Homo sapiens: one gene and its partners. The protein of the gene in region 1 purifies or fractionates together with the protein of each later gene. This does not show direct contact. Each region holds a gene or a part of one and is shown in the gene's direction. Other genes may lie near its edges. The genes, in order: TRIML2, BORCS5, SPEN, MTM1 and SRGAP2.

Evidence for each region.
Region 2: the proteins of TRIML2 (region 1) and BORCS5 purify together in Homo sapiens (affinity purification with mass spectrometry; 2 studies listed by BioGRID and IntAct, with this or other methods). This does not show direct contact.
Region 3: the proteins of TRIML2 (region 1) and SPEN purify together in Homo sapiens (affinity purification with mass spectrometry; 2 studies listed by BioGRID and IntAct, with this or other methods). This does not show direct contact.
Region 4: the proteins of TRIML2 (region 1) and MTM1 purify together in Homo sapiens (affinity purification with mass spectrometry; 2 studies listed by BioGRID and IntAct, with this or other methods). This does not show direct contact.
Region 5: the proteins of TRIML2 (region 1) and SRGAP2 purify together in Homo sapiens (affinity purification with mass spectrometry; 2 studies listed by BioGRID and IntAct, with this or other methods). This does not show direct contact.

Annotation. Positions count from the first base shown.
Region 1 is NC_000004.12:188,099,502-188,103,111, reverse strand, and holds part of TRIML2 (probable E3 ubiquitin-protein ligase TRIML2), read left to right. Parts: intron 1-1,838; exon of another isoform or gene 1,839-1,852; coding exon of another isoform or gene 1,853-1,861; coding exon 1,862-2,056; intron 2,057-3,610.
Region 2 is NC_000012.12:12,433,560-12,437,169, forward strand, and holds part of BORCS5 (BLOC-1-related complex subunit 5), read left to right. Parts: intron 1-2,068; coding exon 2,069-2,226; intron 2,227-3,610.
Region 3 is NC_000001.11:15,854,151-15,857,760, forward strand, and holds part of SPEN (msx2-interacting protein), read left to right. Parts: intron 1-3,610. UniProt on the Homo sapiens protein: May serve as a nuclear matrix platform that organizes and integrates transcriptional responses. In osteoblasts, supports transcription activation: synergizes with RUNX2 to enhance FGFR2-mediated activation of the osteocalcin FGF-responsive element (OCFRE).
Region 4 is NC_000023.11:150,571,603-150,575,212, forward strand, and holds part of MTM1 (myotubularin), read left to right. Parts: intron 1-3,610. UniProt on the Homo sapiens protein: Lipid phosphatase which dephosphorylates phosphatidylinositol 3-monophosphate (PI3P) and phosphatidylinositol 3,5-bisphosphate (PI(3,5)P2). Has also been shown to dephosphorylate phosphotyrosine- and phosphoserine-containing peptides.
Region 5 is NC_000001.11:206,206,512-206,210,121, forward strand, and holds part of SRGAP2 (SLIT-ROBO Rho GTPase-activating protein 2), read left to right. Parts: intron 1-3,610. UniProt on the Homo sapiens protein: Postsynaptic RAC1 GTPase activating protein (GAP) that plays a key role in neuronal morphogenesis and migration mainly during development of the cerebral cortex. Regulates excitatory and inhibitory synapse maturation and density in cortical pyramidal neurons.

The DNA of each region.
Region 1 (3,610 bases):
GAACTTTGGAGGCGGAGCTTGCAGTGAGCCGAGATGGCGCCACTGCACTCCAGCCTGGGCGACAGAGCGAGACTCCGTCTCAAAAAAAAAAAAAAAAAAAAAAAAACCAAGAGAGTAAAAGCAGAGGTGGAGAGACGTGCAAAGGGACTTGCAATAATTAGGGAGAGATGATGGTGAGCTGGGGGACAGGTAGAGCAGTGGTGAGAAGTAGTCAGGTTCTTGATAAATCTTGATTTCATTGAATCTTTTTTTTTTTTTTTTTGAGATGAAGTTTCGTTCTTGTTACCCAGGCTAGAGTTCAGTGACGCGATCTCGGCTCACTGCAACCTCCGCCTCCCGGGTTCAAGCAATTCTCCTGCCTTAGTCTCCCAGGTAGCTGACATTACAGGGGCCCGTCATCATGCCTGGCTAATTTTTTTATTTTTAGTAGAGACGGGGTTTCACCATGTTGGTCAGGCTGGTCTCGAACTGCTGACCCCATGATCCACCTGCCTTGGCCTCCCAAAGTGCTGGGATTACAGACGTGAGCCCGGACAATTTCACTGAATCTTAAATAGCTTAATAGAGATGCTATTTAAGCATCTCTAAGATGACTACTTTCAAATATATATCCCTAGCTCAGATTTCCAAATGGTAGTAGGCTTCATGTCCAATTTCCTACTTACTATCTTTACTTGGATGTCTAATTGACTAATCAAATTCATCACATCCCGAGCTAACGCACACTCCTCACTTCTGGAATCCAGCCTTTCCATAGATTCTCTCTATATATTTTGGTAATTCCATTCTTCCAGTTGCTTAGTCTAAAATTTTTGGTGTCTTTCGTCCATGACTCCTTTTTTCCCCACAACTCTTACCCAAGCATCAGCAAATCCCATTGGCCCTTTTCCAATGTCCTGGTCTCCTCCTCTGTTTGACAGAGGCTATAGCTTCCTTAGTTTTTCCTTATTGATGAACATTTCTTTTTTTTTTTTTTTTTTTTAAGATGGAGTCTCCCTCTGTCGCCCAGGCTGGAGTGCGGTGGCGCCATCTCGGCTCACTGCAAGCTCCACCTCCCGGGTTCACGCCATTCTCCTGCCTCAGCCTCCCGAGTAGCTGGGACTACAGGCGCCCGCCACCAAGCCCGGCTAATTTTTTGTATTTTTAGTAGAGACGGGGTTTCACCGTGTTAGCCAGGATGGTCTCGATCTCCTGACCTCGTGATCCGCCTGCCTCGGCCTCCCAAAGTGCTGGGATTACAGGCGTGAACCACCGCGCCCAGCCAATTCATTGATGAACATTTCTTCGTCTGCATTTTATGTTCTAAAATTGTGTTGATGTCTTGGCTGATGTTGACTCAAATTCTATTTCTCCTTTGGGTTTATTCCTTTTCTTCTGTACTTTACATTTCCTCGTCTTTTTTTGTTTGTTTGTTTTTTTGAGACAGAGTCTAGCTCTGTTGCCAGGCTGGAGTGCAGTGGCGTAATCTCTGCTCACTGCAACCTCCACCTCCCAGGTTCAAGCGATTCTCCTGCCTTAGCCTTCCGAGTAGCTGGGATTATGGGTGCTCCCCACCACGCCCAGCTAATTTTTGTATTTTTAGTAGAGATGGGGTTTCACCATGCTGGCCAGTATGGTCTCGATCTCCTGACCTCGTGATCCACCCACTTTGGCCTCCCAAAGTGCTGGGATTGCAGGCGTGAGCCACTGCGCCCAGCCTTCCTTGTCTTTATATTGGGGTTAGAGATGGAAAGAATACATTGTGGTCAGTGTAAGATATATATATCTATATATAGATATAGATATCTATCTATTATGACGTGTGTGTGTGTTGTTAATCTATCATGTTTAACCTGAAGTCTATCATGTCTATATGAGGAAGGAAGAGGAACAAAATTTTAAAAAGATGATTGAGTCTGAGTATAGTATGAGACTCCGGTTGTTGAATGAAGAGTGTGAGCAGAATCTCCAGAGACAGCAGGAATGCATATCTGACTTGAACCTGAGAGAAACCCTTCTGAATCAAGCGATCAAGCTTGCCACCGAGCTAGAGGAGATGTTCCAGGAAATGCTACAGGTGAGATATTGAAAACAACATCCTCATATTTGAGAAATGAGAAAAAGAAGAGCTAAACATTATGTCAATTCCAAAATAACATAGCCAGTGACAACCACACATGTATTAAATGAATTATATACCTACCTGGCAACTCCATTTCTATGAATTTATCTTGACATGCATATAAAAAGACATAAATAAAGCACAATATACCTATAAATATATTTGTACACATATTACTGTATTATGCTTCAAACATACTTACACACATAGAAAAAGACACCTGGGTAAGGCAACACTGAAACTGAGTTTCAGTTTAGAGCCATGGTTTAGAATTCACCTTTCTTTTTTTTGAGACAGAGTCTGGCTCTGTCTCCAGGCTGGAGTGCAGTGGCGCAATCTCAGCTCACTGCAAGCTTCGCCTCCCGGGTTCACGCCATTCTCCTGCCTCAGCCTCCCAAGTAGCTGGGATTACAGGTGCCCGCCACTACGCCCGGCTAATTTTTTGTATATTTAGTAGAGACGGGGTTTCACCGTGTTAGCCAGGATGGTCTCGATCTCCTGACCTCATGATCCACCCGCCTCAGCCTCCCAAAGTGCTGGGATTACAGGCGTGAGCCACCGCGCCCGGCCTAGAATTCACCTTTGAAGCCGGATGAATGGAGTTCCTATCTGAGCCAGCTGTTTACTGGCTCCTGGGTGGCCTACGACCTGCTGCTTAACCTTTGACTTGGTTCCTTTAGCTGTAAACTGGATATAACAGTGACCCCTAATTTATAAAATTATTGTGAGATTTGAGTGAGATAATCTGCTAAAGCTTATTAAATCGTGTCTTGTTCATGTTAAGCAGTTGATGAGTAGCAGATGTTACAATTATAACATTCATAGCAAGAGGTTAGAAACACCCTGTATTTGTCAATAGAAGACTCACAAAATGTGCTCCATACATACATGGAAGAATACTCTTCAGCATGTTAAGATGATGTCATGGCTCTGTGTATATGAATAAGGAATGTTCTCCAAGAATAAAGTAAGTTGTCAGATTAGTAATCAAATATAATAAACTATCACTTATGTTTATGTTTTTTCCCCCTAAATAACATACTCAAGTTGCGTATGTGACTACGCAGTATATGTAAAGTATACTTGGAAGGATAAAAAGAAAATTGATATCAGTAACGTAATTATTTATTTCTTATTAGTTAATCTATATACCTTAATTTTAATTGATTTCAAGTTAATGAAAAAATAGGGAACCTTCTGAACAAACAGCCACAGAAAAAACATGAAATGTTTTAGGTGCATATTAATGTGAGTAAGGGCTGCGTGCACACACATCTGTATTGGCTTAAACATACATAACAGGGGGCAAAGAATCAACTGTCTCTTGAGAGGAATCCTGCTTCAGCAGAAGAATATCATGGCCTTGCCTAATTATGTCTGTTCCTGGGGTAGCAGGCAGAAAAGCAGGGTTTTTTTTTTTTTGGTTTTGGTTTTGGTTTTTTTTTTTGATTTGGAGTCTTGCTCTGTCATTCAGGCTGGAGTGCAGTGGCACGATCTTGGCTCACTGCA
Region 2 (3,610 bases), on another chromosome or scaffold:
TTTTACAAGATGTTTCCATTGAGGGAAATTGGGTAAAGGGGACACGGGATCCTATACATAGGATCTCAATAAAAATTTCAATTAAAAAATTCCCAATTTCTGCTAATACTGGATTCACCAAAACATACTGCCTGGAAGCAGGTTCAGGTCAAGTAACTGGTGCTCTCCTGTGTTAGGACTTGTAGTGCAGCAGCTGAGCAGTGGAATGTGGAGGAGCCTAGCAGTGCCTCGGGTTCCAGCCCTGTATGCTGCTCTGTCTCAGAAGATCTGAGAGCATCGACCAGCATTTCCCAGGATTCTCTGGGACAACCTAGCTGGGTAGCCCTTCATACAGCCTGTCTGGAGGGAGAGAATACTGGCTTCAGCTCTAATATATCAGAACAGTGTGGTGTGGATGTTGGTGGTTGGGGACAGTGAGGGGTGGACATTGGTGGTTGGGGTCGGTGAGGAAGGGTTCCCAAGATGAGCTTTGGCCAGGTGAGGTGGCTTACACTGAGGCGGGAGGATCGCTTGAGCCCAGAAGTTCGAGACCAACCTGGGCAGCAAAACCCTGTCTCTACTAAAAATACAAAAACTAGCTGGCTGTGGTAACAAGTGCCTGTGGCCTCAGCTACTCTGGAGGCTGAGGTAGGAAGATTGCTTGGGTCCAGGAGGTCGAGGTTGCAGTGAGCTAAGATCACGCCACTGCACTCCAGATGGGCAACAGAGCAAGACTCTGTCTCAAAAAAAAAAAAAAAAAAAAAAAGCTTTGCTGTGCCCTGCACGTGACCTACTGTCATATGTATTCTGTGTTCCTTGTGCTGTAGCATTGGCTCTGCTGTGAGACAGAATGGTCTGGCATGTGGTAGGGCGATCACTGGGATCCCCAAGACCCTGCTAGGGAATCTCTGAGGTCAAAACTATGTTTGTAATAATACTTAGACATTATTTGCAAAACATGCTCATTCTCTTACAGAAGTGTCCAGTGGAGTTTTCCAGAGGCTAAATGATGTGAAATAGCAACAGATTAAATGCAGAAGCAGCTATGATATTCCAGCTGTTTTCTATTAAGGCAGACATTAAAAAGACATTAATAAAAATAAACCAGTGGCATCATTTCACTTTTTTGGTTTGGAAGAATATTTTCCTTAAAATGTTATTTTTGTTAATGTATAAAGGGGTTATCATTATATTTAAATGATTTAATATTTAAGAATGTTCTCAGTTTTAATTTTTATAGGTGAATATCAAAAGATAAAACTCACATAAAAGCTCTTTGGGGTCCTTGGTAATTTTTGAGAGTGTAGAGGTTCTGATAATTGAGAACTGTTGATTTGGCAGAAAGCAATAGGCTTAATTTCTAGACTGGGCTTTGCTTTGTGAATGTGGGCATCATTTGGCCTCTTCAATTGATTTCTTCTCCTGCAAATGCTATTAATTGCCCTGCTACATACCTATAAAAATATAATCCCCTATGCAAATACAGGGGAGATTAATGGTTACCTGGCTAAGCTGGTGTTGAAAGAAAATGTAAAGAATGAGTTTCTGGCCTGTTAGCTGACAGTCTGTTTACTTGTTAAATGTCTCCATTTTAGCATCTCCTAGCAGTTTCTGTATACATTTGATTTCTTTTTCTCAGTTTTTCAGACAACCATTTTAATTATTTTTAAAAATTATATTCCCACATTTTCAATTAATAAGGGATTTATATTCCTAGTACCTTGAAGTGATGTGATAAGGTCAGGAGCTCTGTTCTTGGAGAAACCACTTACTAGCTATGTGACGTTTGGAAAGTTACTTAACTTCTCTGTGTCTTGGCTTCCTCCTGTGTAAATGGAGCTAATAATACCTCACTTTCCAGGGCAGCTGTGAATACGAAAAATCGTGCACAAGAAGCACTTAGCAAAAGTGCTTGGCACATAACAGATGCCCCATAAATAATAATTGCAACGATTGTCATTAACATATAACAAAAGATGCAAGATTAAATTGAAGTCTTACCCTGTCTTCAGTGAACTTGTTAAACTACTTTATTCACAAGTTTATTAGCAGTAATTTTAATTTCATTTCATTTTTTTCTCCTTTGAAGGGCTATTGAGTGGCCAGACTTCCCCAACAAATGCCAAATTGGAGAAACTGGACTCTCAGCAGGTGTTGCAGCTCTGCCTCCGATATCAAGATCACCTGCATCAGTGTGCAGAGGCCGTTGCTTTTGACCAGAATGCTTTGGTTAAACGAATCAAAGAGGTAATGTGCTGCGGGAAAATAACATTGCTGACTGGTTGTTGTGATTCTCTGCAACTCTGGATGCCATCTTAAGACTTGACATTTGTCACTATTGCTTTGAGGAGATTGCTTTTTCCCAGCAGTAAAATGTGATGATGAAAAAAGTGGTCCACAGAGCTGGGCTAATTTAGAGTTTGAATTCTGATCACCACTGATTTGCTTGGCCAAGTTGCTTAACTTCTCTGTCTCAGTTTCCTCATGTGAAAAATGGGGCTAATAGTAGTAACTTACCCCAAGGGTTGAGTGACAGATTGCTTAGTAAGTGTTAGCTATTATTAGTGCATGTAAAGTCCTGCCATACTAATTTGCTCTAGCCACCATTCTGTCTTTGAATTGACTTTAATTGTTTCCTGTGTATAATTTATATTTTGTTTCCCAGTAGATTAAAATTTCTTTCAAAGCAGGAGCTTTGATACGAAAAGCTCCAGTGATTCTTAATGGTTTTATGGAAACAATTACGCCTATTTAACCCGCAAAGTTTTTAAAGGAAAGAAGCAATGTAATTCATGTGAAAGTACTTAGTAAACTGAAGCACATGATGCAAATGTTGTGTAATTATCAATCTCAGTAAATAGGTACTTCCTTTAAGCACTTAAATGTATCATTGACCAGCTGCTGCACAGCACAGTTCTAGGGGCATAAAGGAATAAGTAAGTACATTTTCCAAAGTTTCCAGTCAAGAAAAACTTTATATTCCTGATACCTTGATGTACTGTAATATCAAGGAAATGTTAGGAGCTGTTTACTGGAGAAACCACTTCTGTGAATGGCACTCCCAGATTTGTTTAACAAAGTGGCCCTTTAACTCTGGTGAGAGAAGATGGACATGGAGAAACAAGTGATGGAGCAAGAATCACTGCAGATTAACAATTTGTATTTAGCAATGGAGGTAGTGTATCCTTGAGATTACAAAGCAGTCATTAGTTATATTGACAGATTTAAATTTGCCAACACCTCCAACATTTTAGTGCTTAGCTTTCATAAAATGTTGCATGCATATACTCTTCTCTCATGGGTTAAATACTATTATTTGGAAAACTATTAAACATGACCTTTGATATTGCTTTTCATTGATGTGGCTTTGCAAATATTATAAACTTATTTTACTATATTATGGTCTACCAAGCTTTACTTTCCAAACATGACTATTCATTGGCATCATGTGAGTTTTTTGTTTGTTTTAATACTGAGTTCTCCCCTCCTCCCAGTAAGTCTAGGTGTGGTCTGTGAATCATTATTTTAATAAGATGTTATGGTTTGGCTGTGTCCCTACCCAAATCTCCTCTTGAATTGTAGCTTCCATAATTCCCACATGTCATGGGAGGGACCCAGTGGGAGGTAATTG
Region 3 (3,610 bases), on another chromosome or scaffold:
AACCATCCACAGTATTTAGAGTAAATAATGTAGTCTGAAAATACCTTGAGTGTATATATTCATTAAATTGGGCTCCTGAATTGTGTTATTAGATGATTTGAAATAAGTGCTGTTCAGCCCCTTGAAACACATATATTAGCCTGCTGAACAAGGAGACTAAATAAAGTACATTTATCTGTAGTTAAATTAACAATCTTCTTTACTATTTGGTTTAAATTTTTCTTTAAACTTATTATTTTTACTTGCCTTACAGCTACACATATTTTGAATGAAAATAGTGTACTCCTCTGTGGAAACCAATTAGAATGTTAATCATTTTATTAGAAAGCATGTAGTTTTTTTTTGTTTGTTTTTGAGACGGAGTTTCGCTCCTGTTGCCCAGGCTGGAGTGCAATGGTGCTATCTCGGCTCACCGCGACCTCTGCCTCCCAGGTTCAAGCAATTCTGCCTCAGCCTCCCAAGTAGCTGGGATTACAGGCATGCACCACCACACCCAGCTAATTTTGTGTTTTTAGTAGAGACGGGGTTTCTCTGTGTTGAGGCTGGTCTCGAACTCTTAACCTCAGGTGATCTGCCCACCTCGGCCTCCCAAAGTGCTGGGATTATAGGTGTGAGCCACCGCGACCGGCCAAAACCATGTAATTTTTATGTGATATCTAGCTGGTTTTTAGTGTGTGGAAATATGCTTTGCAGTGAGTGAAAAGATTTTTTGGATATAATTTTAAAGTATCTCAATATTCAGATTGTTCTCCCTACATGTATTCCTGTCTGCCAAGTTGAAGATTACAAGCATCTAAAAAAACCATAGTGGAATGGCTCTATAAAATCCTAACTTAAATTTAGTGAATTCTTGGATTTAATTACTTATGATTTCATTTTGAGTATAGAAATGAAATGAACTCTAGCATATTTAAAGATTTGTATTATATAGTTTAAGGAACTGCTCCAATCCTTAGAATTAAGGAAGATTTGTGGGAAAATTCAAATGAGAAACACTATTTCTTATCCTGTGTACCTGGTGCTAGATTTTTAGTCCAGCCTTAAATGCAAGGGTTGCATGTGCCTGTCTTTGTATTAGATGCTGTTTGGGTCACTAGGGAACATTGCCAAATGATATGAAGATTCTTTTAATTATACATTGTATTGACTTTGATTGTTATATTCCCATTATGTTACACATAACGTATGTACTTTTACATATAATACATTTATAGTTTCTTTGATTCTTAAAATTGACTAAAAGTGATTTTTTTTTTACACATCATTTATTTTTCCTTTGATTTAAAAACTGGGGCTTATGTACTCAAAAAACATTTTGCAGTTTACAAAACTATATTTAACATATAGCGATTTGTCTTTTACCAATCAAATTGGTAGGTAGAAGTATTTTGTCTGAACCAGTAATTTTTTTAAATTACACTGTTTGCAGCTGGGTGCGGTGGCTCATGCCTGTAATCCCAGCACTTTGGGAGGCTGAGGCGGGCGGGCGGATCATGAGGTCAGGAGTTTGAGACGAGCCTGGCCAACATGGTGAAACCCTATCTCTACTAAAAATACAAAAAATTAGCCTGGCATGGTGGCAAGCACCTATAATCCCAGCTACTCGGGAGGCTGAGGCAGGAGAATCGCTTGAACCCAGGAGGTGGAGGGTGCAGTGAGCCAAGATCATGCCATTGCACTCCAGCCTGGGTGACAGAGCAAGACTCTGTCTCGAGAAAAAAAAAAAATTATGCTGTTTGCAGTGAAGGCTCATTTGCATTCAAGATTATTTAAAAGTGTCCTTGGATTAAAAGATAAAAGAGTAATTTATTACTTTATTGTGTGAAAAGGATGCTAGAACTTTTTTTTTTTTTTTTTTTTGAGACGGAGTTTCTCTCTCTTGCCCAGGCTGGAGTGCAGTGGTGTGATCTCGGCTCACTGCAAGCTCCACCTCCTGGGTTCACACCATTCTGCGTCAGCCTCCCAAATAGCTGGGATTACAGGCACCTGCCACCACACCCGGCTAATTTTTTTGTATTTTTAGTAGAGACGGGGTTTCACCATGTTAGCCAGCATGGTCTCGATCTCCTGACCTCAGGATCCGCCCGCCTCGGCCTCCCAAAGTGCTGGGATTACAGGTGTGAGCCACCGTGCCCGGCCAGATGTTAGAATCTTTAATGAAGACCTCATCGATCAGAATTCAGGAGGAAGTACTAAACTTGGGTGGGAAAATACCTCTTTATTTTTAGTAACTTCTTACTGGGATCTAATATTTCCTTCAACTATAATATAGAGAAAACTAATAGTAGTTGTGATTTTCGTCACCAATACAAATCATATATATTTTCATATTTTATATTACAGTTTTTGCAAATACTTCATTATTGTCATCACAACTTGGAAATTACAGTGGCTGTTAGATCTGCTGCCAGATACTTTTTTTTTTTTTTTTTTTTGAGACAGAGTCTTGCTGTGTCACCCAGGCTGGAGTGCAATGGCATGATCTCGGCTCACTGCAACCTCTGCCTCCCAGGTTCCAGCAATTCTCCTGCCTCAGTTTCTCGAGTAACTGGAATTACAGGCGCCCACCACCATGCCCAGCTAATTTTTGTGTTTTTAATAGAGACGGGGTTTCACCATGTTGGCTAGGCTGGTCTTGAACTCCTGATCTTAGGTGATCCGCCCACCTCGACTTTACAATGTGCTGGGATTACAGTCATAAGCCACTGCGCCTGGCCTAGATACTTTTATTTGGTGTGTTAGTAAAGAAGCATATATATTACTATATGATCAATTTGTGTTATATATCTTAAAAATTCTATCTCAGGAATTTTGAACATACACAAAAGTGGACACAATAGTCAGTGAATCCCAAGTTCCTCTCGTTCATCTCCAACAACCATCAGTTATGGCCTATCTGCTTTTCTCCTTCCTGTATTTTTTTTTTTCTTGAGACAGGATCTCACTTTGTCACCCATGCTGGAGTGCAGTGGTGTGATCACTGCTTACTGTGTCCCTTCAACCTCCCGGGCTCAAGAGATCCTCCCATCTTAGCTTTCCAAGTAGCTAGGACTACAGGCGCACACCACCATACTCGGCTAATTTTTGTATTTTCTGTAGAGACAAGGTCTCACTCTGTTGCCCAGGCTGGTCTCGAACTCCTGGGCTCAAGTGATCTGTCTGCCTCGGCCTCTCAAAGTGCTGGGATTACAGGTGTGAGCCACTGCACCCAGCCTTTTTTTTTTGAGACGGAGTCTCGTTCTGTTGCCCAGGCTGGAGTGCAGTGGCGTGATCTCAGCTCACTGCAACCTCTGCCTCCCGGGTTCAAGCTATTCTTGTGCTTCAGCCTCCTGAGTAGCTGGGATTACAGGCGTGTGCTACCACGCCCAGCTAGTTTTTGTATTTTTAGTAGAGACAAGGTTTCACCATGTTGGCCAGGCTGGTCTTGAACTCCTGACCTCAAGTGATCTGCCTGCCTCAGCCTCCCAAAGTGCTGGTATTACAGGCGTGAGCCACCGTGCCCGGCCCCTATTTATTTATTTATTTTCATAAAAAAATTGTTTTTTTTCTACCCAGGTTGGAGTGTAATGGCATAATTATGGTTCACTGCAGCCTCGACCTCCTGGGCTTG
Region 4 (3,610 bases), on another chromosome or scaffold:
TTTTGTTTTTAAGAAAATACATTATTCTAGCTATGTCTTAATAAACTTTTGGAATCCAGTAGCTTGCTTTTCTCGACATTTCTCTGCATTTCCTTGTTGGCACGAGCTTTTGGTTCCAGGCGACGCTGGCAGCAGTGTCCTCCGTTCTTGCAGTGCTATATTCCCTTTACCATTTGGACTTAGAAATTTCTTGAGGCCAAATTTTGTTGCTACAAACAATAATAGAGCAAGAGAGGCCTTCTTCTAGTTTATCTGCCTTGAAAGTGAGAGTGTATCAGGAGACCCAGTAGGAGTTACTGAGTTAGGTCCCGTTGTCATCCTGTAGTTGGGGGAAGATTTTTCATTGGAAATCTTTGCAGTGTATTTTTCCACTGTGAGTACCACGACAGTCTCATCTTTTTCTTTTTAAGAATGTGGAGGCATCTCTTTAGATAATTGGCATTGTGTACTACTAGTGCTTTCTATTTCTACCAGAGGAACTATGGTAAATGAGCCTTTTGTTTGTGTGAGGTGGTAGAAAGCTTCCTGCATTTGGATTCCAGAAGCTGAGTTCAGGTCCCAGTTCTCTTCCTTAACTCTGTGTCACTGGACAAGTCATTTAACCTTGCTGCTAGTGGCTCTTCCATCTGTAAGATAGAGCTAATAAAACCTGCCCTGCCAAGTTTCCAGAGTTCGTCAGAGAATCAAATGTGCCTCAGAGCCCTTTGTAAAGTGTGCAGCATTATTATTATTGCATGAATGTGTTGTATAAGCAGTTGCTATTTGGAGAACTGGTATAAGAGGGCAGTTGTCCTTCCTGTTCTTGGACTGTCTTCCCTGTGGCTGTAGGTGTGGCCTCTCTGCCTCAATCTCCCTCTTCTGTCATCATTAAAATATGCAGGTATTTATATTGCCTCTTTCATAGGGGCCTGATGTCACTGGTATACCATAACAAGTTTTTGTTTTATGTATTCCTAAAATGGTAGTAGTGTATAACCAACAATCACAGGGTGACAGCAAGGCAAGCTCAGCCTCAGGGAATGTTGCCTGCCTCTCCCAAGTGTCTCAGAATGGAAGACTTTCTCTTTTCCAATCGAGACCTGACCGCAGCTCCTGAGTCCATACTAGACTGGATGCTTGTGCTTCTGGGGTTAGAATAAAAAGCGATCCAGGCTCTGGGGAAGAGATGGTTGATAGCTCCCCAGGTCTGTACCATCCTCCTTGCTGGAACAGGGCAGGCTCCTGAGTGATAGGGCAGGCGCCTGAGCGGCCTTTTCTCGTTAAAGTTGTTTCTCAGTATCTTGAAATGTCTCTGTAAGTTGCACTTTGCAATGAATTTCATGTACTTGTATTAGTTTAGTATTGCTGTTCCTTGACTGTTTGTCTTAATAGGTAACTCCTACATATTTCAGTATGTTTTTCATTTTCTATGATTGTAATAAAAAGGGCGAGGTTGGAGATATTTTTTCTGATTGTCTGAAACCTAAGATGGTCCTATACACACAGTAGACATTTAGTAAACATTATTTAACTTGAACTAGACAAAGGAGGCCAGCTTAGAATTGTTCACACATGATCATTGTAACCAATTCTGTTGCATGTCTAGAGATCATGCTCCCTGTCTGCCAGATGAAATGGAGCTCATGCTTAACCTTTCTTGCCGTGGTCAAACAGCAAATGAGAAAGTTCTTTGAATCAGTCATTGTCTTGCCACCCTTTTCTTCTCAGCTTCTTGATTTTTGAACTCTTGGCATGAGCAGTTTGAGTACAGATTAGTTTTTGCTTTGCTTGCTAGTATGTTTGGGGTGGGAAGTTGAAGGGGGAATAATTGAAAGTAAAAATAAAAGTTGTTTGTAACTCATTCATCTCTTATCCCCTTGCCTCCAAACCCTGACAGCACACAGCAATGCCCTTTCTTTAGCATGTGATAATTGTTATATTTTGATAGCATGTCCTTGAACTTTTTTGTGAGAAGGAAGCATTGTTTATTTCCCAGAGCCTTTTGCTTGGAATGTAATGGATTGCTACATCAGTTATCCTTTCCCCTTCTTGGGAGATGTAGAGGCAGAGGTGGGTTATAAGGTAGATTCTTAGCATCAGGTGGTGGTGCTTTAAATTCCCTTATATGACTTTTAAATTGCTTTATGGCCCTGAGACAACTTAGGTGGGGATTTAGGAGAATAGGTACTATGCTGGAATCCAGCAGGCCTGGAATTGGCCCAAGCTCTTTTACTGAAATAAGAAATGTACCTGCCTGCACAGCAGTGACCCTTGGCCATGACATGAAATATACCTGCGTGTCAGTACTGTTTGTGGATAACAGTAAGAAGGAAAGTTTGCACTTGGTTTCAGTGAGACCCCAGGAGGGCGCTGCGGTTAACACGGGTTATGTGACTAGGAGGATATGAGAAACCCCAGCCAGTATTCCATTTTGAGTTTCCTGGTTCTGAGGTGTTCCTTGCCCATGTCAGTGGTTCTGGATCTGGGAGAGAAAGCACAGGTCCCTACTGCCCTAACAAAGGGAGGACTGACCGTTGGTGCTGGCCCCCACCTCTTTGAATCCCTTGCTTGGAGAGAGAACTGATTTTTTCAAAGTTGAAGCTGAGTCTAACTCTGCTGGACATGTCCTTCCTTCACTATATCAACTCTAATAATCTCCCCAGAGATTCCCATTACGCCTATGGCATGAAACAGGTTTTTCTTATTGATGGGGATTGCCCTTGCTCCCCGGGAGCTGGTGAAACAGGCAGAATTTCAAGCCCCATCCTCACCCACTGAGACCCACCACCGACTCCTTAAGCTGAATGTGAATTTTAATGAGGCCCCCGGGTGATTTTGCAGTAAATTAAAGTTCGGAAATAGTCTAATAGTACCAGCTCATATCCTGGCTTCCCAGTCCTTTAAGATAGCGCTAGCCAATAGAGAATGTGTAATTTAAAATTTTCTAGTAGCCACATTGAACAAGTAAAGAAACAGGTGAAATCAATTTTAATATATTTAACACAGCATGTGCGAAATATTTCAATGTGTCATCGACATAATAATGACACGTTTTTCCTTTTTTGGTACTAAATTGTCAATCAGGTGTATATTTTACATTATAGCCCATCTCAGTTTGGATTAGCCACAGTTCAAGTGTTCAGGAGCTACAGCTGTGGAGAGATACATTTGGTCTTGATTTGCTGAGGATTTCATCAGATTCACTGTCAATGCTTAAATAGCCGCCTCAGTCATAATTTACATTAATATTAGGTGTAATCTTTGCCAAGTCCTTAGCCCAGTGCTTTTACATCAGGTCTCATATGAATCCTCACAGCATCGCTTTGAGGTAAAAACTGTTAAGATCCCCACTGAGTTTCAGAGAGGTTAGGTCTAAGCTGAAGCGTTTAGGAAGCAGTAATATCAGGATTTGAACCCAGGCAAGTCTGACTTCTGGGTTTGCAGCCTCCGCTGCAACTTCCTGCAGCTCTCATGACTACAGGGTTTTTTCTCGGTTTCAGTTTTTAGTTTTGTAAGCCATATTAAAAAGGCACCATTGGTATATGTATGAAATGCAATCTTCTTTCTTGAGGGGAACTTCAAAGAACTCGAGGAATGCCTCTTTCTTCTCTGGCTTTTCAGAGCTGGTGCA
Region 5 (3,610 bases), on another chromosome or scaffold:
CACTATATTAAAACATGAGATTTGCAATGGCATTGGCACCAAAAGTCCATTGCCACCTTGGGTGTACCTTGTACCTGCCTGGTCTCTGGTCGGCCTGCATACAATCAGAGATCAGAGAATAAGGCCACCCACGCCCGGTCTCCGCCCTCACCTAAATCTGAATAGAGTTGGGAGGATGTTAGGGTAGCCGGTTGGTGCTGATTCTGGAAAATGGGAAGACATAATTGTTTAACCCTTCTGTGCTGTGGCCCTCTGCTCCGGAAGACATGCTTTTAAAGCCCCATTTCCCTCTCCTGAAAAATGTGAAGGGTAAAGCAAAATGTGGACTAGGAGAAACCAAGTGACCTGTCTTCTCATCTAGTCGACTGACTTGACTCATGAATAAGAGCCCTTACTCAGATAGCGTTTTTTAAACCAGCAGTTCCCATAGGAAGGGTTCCTGCCTGTTAAAGAGCTGCAGCATGTGTTTGTGCAAGGCACTGTCCCTTCCTGGTCAGTCACTGGAAAGAGCCATGTGGCTCCAGCCCATTGAGACCTTAGCTGGGGAGTGGAAGAGGTGGGTGGCCTTGAATGTTACACCACATGGTTGGAGCTCTGGGTTTTCCTTTGTTTCAGAGTACAGAGGGAGGGGCCCCTCCTTTCCCTGCACCAGTGCAAGGAGACCTTTTCCTATCAGAGAGGACTTGGGAAGGGCCATGGCTCCCCTCTAATGATTGCTGGGGGGTGGGGGTAGGTGTAGAGTTTGAAATGGGCAGCTCCCTTATCTCTTGGAAGGTTGGAAGGTAGTCTGAAGTCCTCATTGTACCTACAGGATCTTTTTTATGTCATTAGTTTGGTCAGTGCTGGAGGTGCCCTAAGGGGCCTTCTATCCACTTGGCTGCAAATATTGGTAGGTTTATTACAGAGATGGGGGAGTTGACTGATTGATAGCTTCAGTTGAACTGGGATTGAGAGAGGTGTGGTTGTGAGTTATTATTGAGGTCTTGGCCTCTTGTCACTGTTCATAATCCAGGCTTGTTTTTGTAAACAATAGGCCACTGGCCTCCATGTCCTGTCCAGATGCATTGCATTTGCTCTTGGAATCCCCCCTGCAGTTTTAACCAGATATGTCTTTTTTTTTTTTTTTTTTTAACACATCCTATTCTTAAACTGTTGCCATCGGGAGTGTTAATAACTTTGATCTTCCCAGATTTCTCTCCAGAAGCACGCCATTTGACTAAGGTGCAAAGTGACTTTAAATGTTTAATTTTTGGAAGGTTCAAGGCTGATAGGTGTTAATAGAACCATATCTGCCAATTTCTTATTGGCAAAGGATTTCTCAAGAGTGTCTCAAAATTAAACACTTTGGATATTTACAAACATTGCTCATTGAGATGATGTAATGCAGTCGGCTATTTGGGTTCTCTCTTCAACCTTGCCACAAACAGACTATTTTGCTTTGCTCTGATATTTTCCCATTGATACTATTCAGGATCATAGAATTTTATAGGTGGCTGAGCATGATGTCTTACTCCGAGAAGGTGCCTGATGAATGCTTATGGAACTGATTTGAATAGTTTAGTCCTTCATTTTACAGCTGAGGAGAATACAGAGAACTGAAGAGGCTTGTCCAAGGTCACACGGCTAGATGGTGGCAGATCTGAAACTAGAAGCAGATTTACCAACTCTCAATTCTCTATTCTGTATCTTTACTATGAAACATCATCTGACCAGGGTGGAAAAAAATAAAAAATTCTTAAGGAGCCCAAATCTGTCAATGAATAATAATAGTAATAATGATAATGATAATAGATTACATTTTGGTTGCTCATTATGTTCCAGTCCATCCCAAGTGCTTTAAATGAATGGTCTGGTTTAATCCTTACCTCAACCCAGGAAATGGGTATTATTGTCACCTTCCATTCACCATATAAGGAAACTGAGGCTTAGAGAGGATGAGAAGCCCTTCCAAGGTCACACAGCCAAACCATGGCAGCTTGACTTCATTCCTTTATTCATTAACTATTTATTGAGTGCTTGCTGTGTGTTCTGGTGATTGGCCATACAGCTGTGAAGAAGAAAAAGTCTCTACCCTCATGGAGCTTATATTCTGGAAGCTGGGCTCTCTATGGAACAGCACAGAATTTGGAGACAAAGGGCCTGCGATCTGGTTTGGCTCTGCCCCCGACTAGCTAGAAGCCCTGGGTCAGAATTATTATGAGTGTCAGCTTTTTGTGTGTTATATGGGACTCATGGTGCTGCCAGACTTACTTCTCTTACAGATGCCAAGATAAAAAGAAAATTGCTGTAACAGCTATGCAGTTTGGTTTGGTTGTTAAGTGCAATTTTTAGAGTCAAAGTGATTCAGGTTTAAATCTTGGTTCTGACAGTAGCTAGCCTTTCACTTCAGGCAAGTTACATGACTTGTCTGAGCCTCAGTTTCCTTATTTGGAAAATAGGTAAAATAAAATACATTTCCTAAGATAGTAGTGAGTTGTTGATGAGATATATAAATTATTTAGAACAGTATCTTGCACTTGTAAGTGCTCAATAATGGTACGGTCTACTTCTCTGTGAGCCTTTCTTTTGCTGAATTGGGCTGACTATTGAGGCTGCATTGCATATTCACTCCCAAAGTGCCAGCTATTAAATGATAGGAAATAAGTAAGGAATGAAACTTAAGTTCTAGCTTAAGATCATTTAGTTGTAACAAAACATCTTGGGTCAGTCACTTAAACCCTCTGGACATCAGTTTCTTTTTCTGTCAGTGAACAAGTAAACTAATTATTGGCCACTGTGGTTCGGCCTGTCTTTGACCAGAGTCCCAGGTCCTGTTTTTTCAATCAGAATTGTTTGAGTCAAATGGACTCTAAATGGGACCCTCATCTCATGGGACTTTCTGGGACCCTCCCTATCCCTTGATTTTTGCCTCCCTATAAACCACCTGCTTGCATGTGCCCTGAGGAACTCCTGAGGCTTCAGCCCCAACCCTACCCCAGAGTGGTTTTATGAGGGGTGTGCCTCCTTAGTCAGCCTGCCTTGTAGTGTCTTCTTAAAAACCATCATTGTTTCTGGTTTGTGGGTGCCCAGATTCCTTGGAAAGTTCATGCCTCTCAATGTCTGACTTGAAAGCAATAATATTCTTAGTCTTTTTACATAGCTCTTTCCAATTTACATTATGCTTTCATATGTAGTTGTCCGTCAGTATCCTCAGGGGATTGGTTCAAGGACTACCCCCACTTCCCCCAGGATACCAAAATCTGCAGATGCTCAAGTCCCTGATAACTAATGGTGTGGTATTTGCGTATAACCTATGTACACACGTCCTTCTGTATACTTTAAATCATCTCTAGATTACTTATAATACCTAATACAGTGTAAATGCTATGTAAATAGTTATACTGCTTTTAAAATTTGTATTATTTTAAATTGTTGTATTGGTATTTTTATTGTTTTTTTTTTTTTCTTGAATATTTTCCATTCCCATTTGGTTGAATCTGCAGATATGGAACCTGCAGGTATGGGGAGGGCTGATGTACATTAATCTCTGGAAATTCTTTACAACCCTGGTCAGATTCATGGTCATAAACTGAAGCCTTTGGCCTCTAGCCTGTTAGCTTGTTGCTGGGAT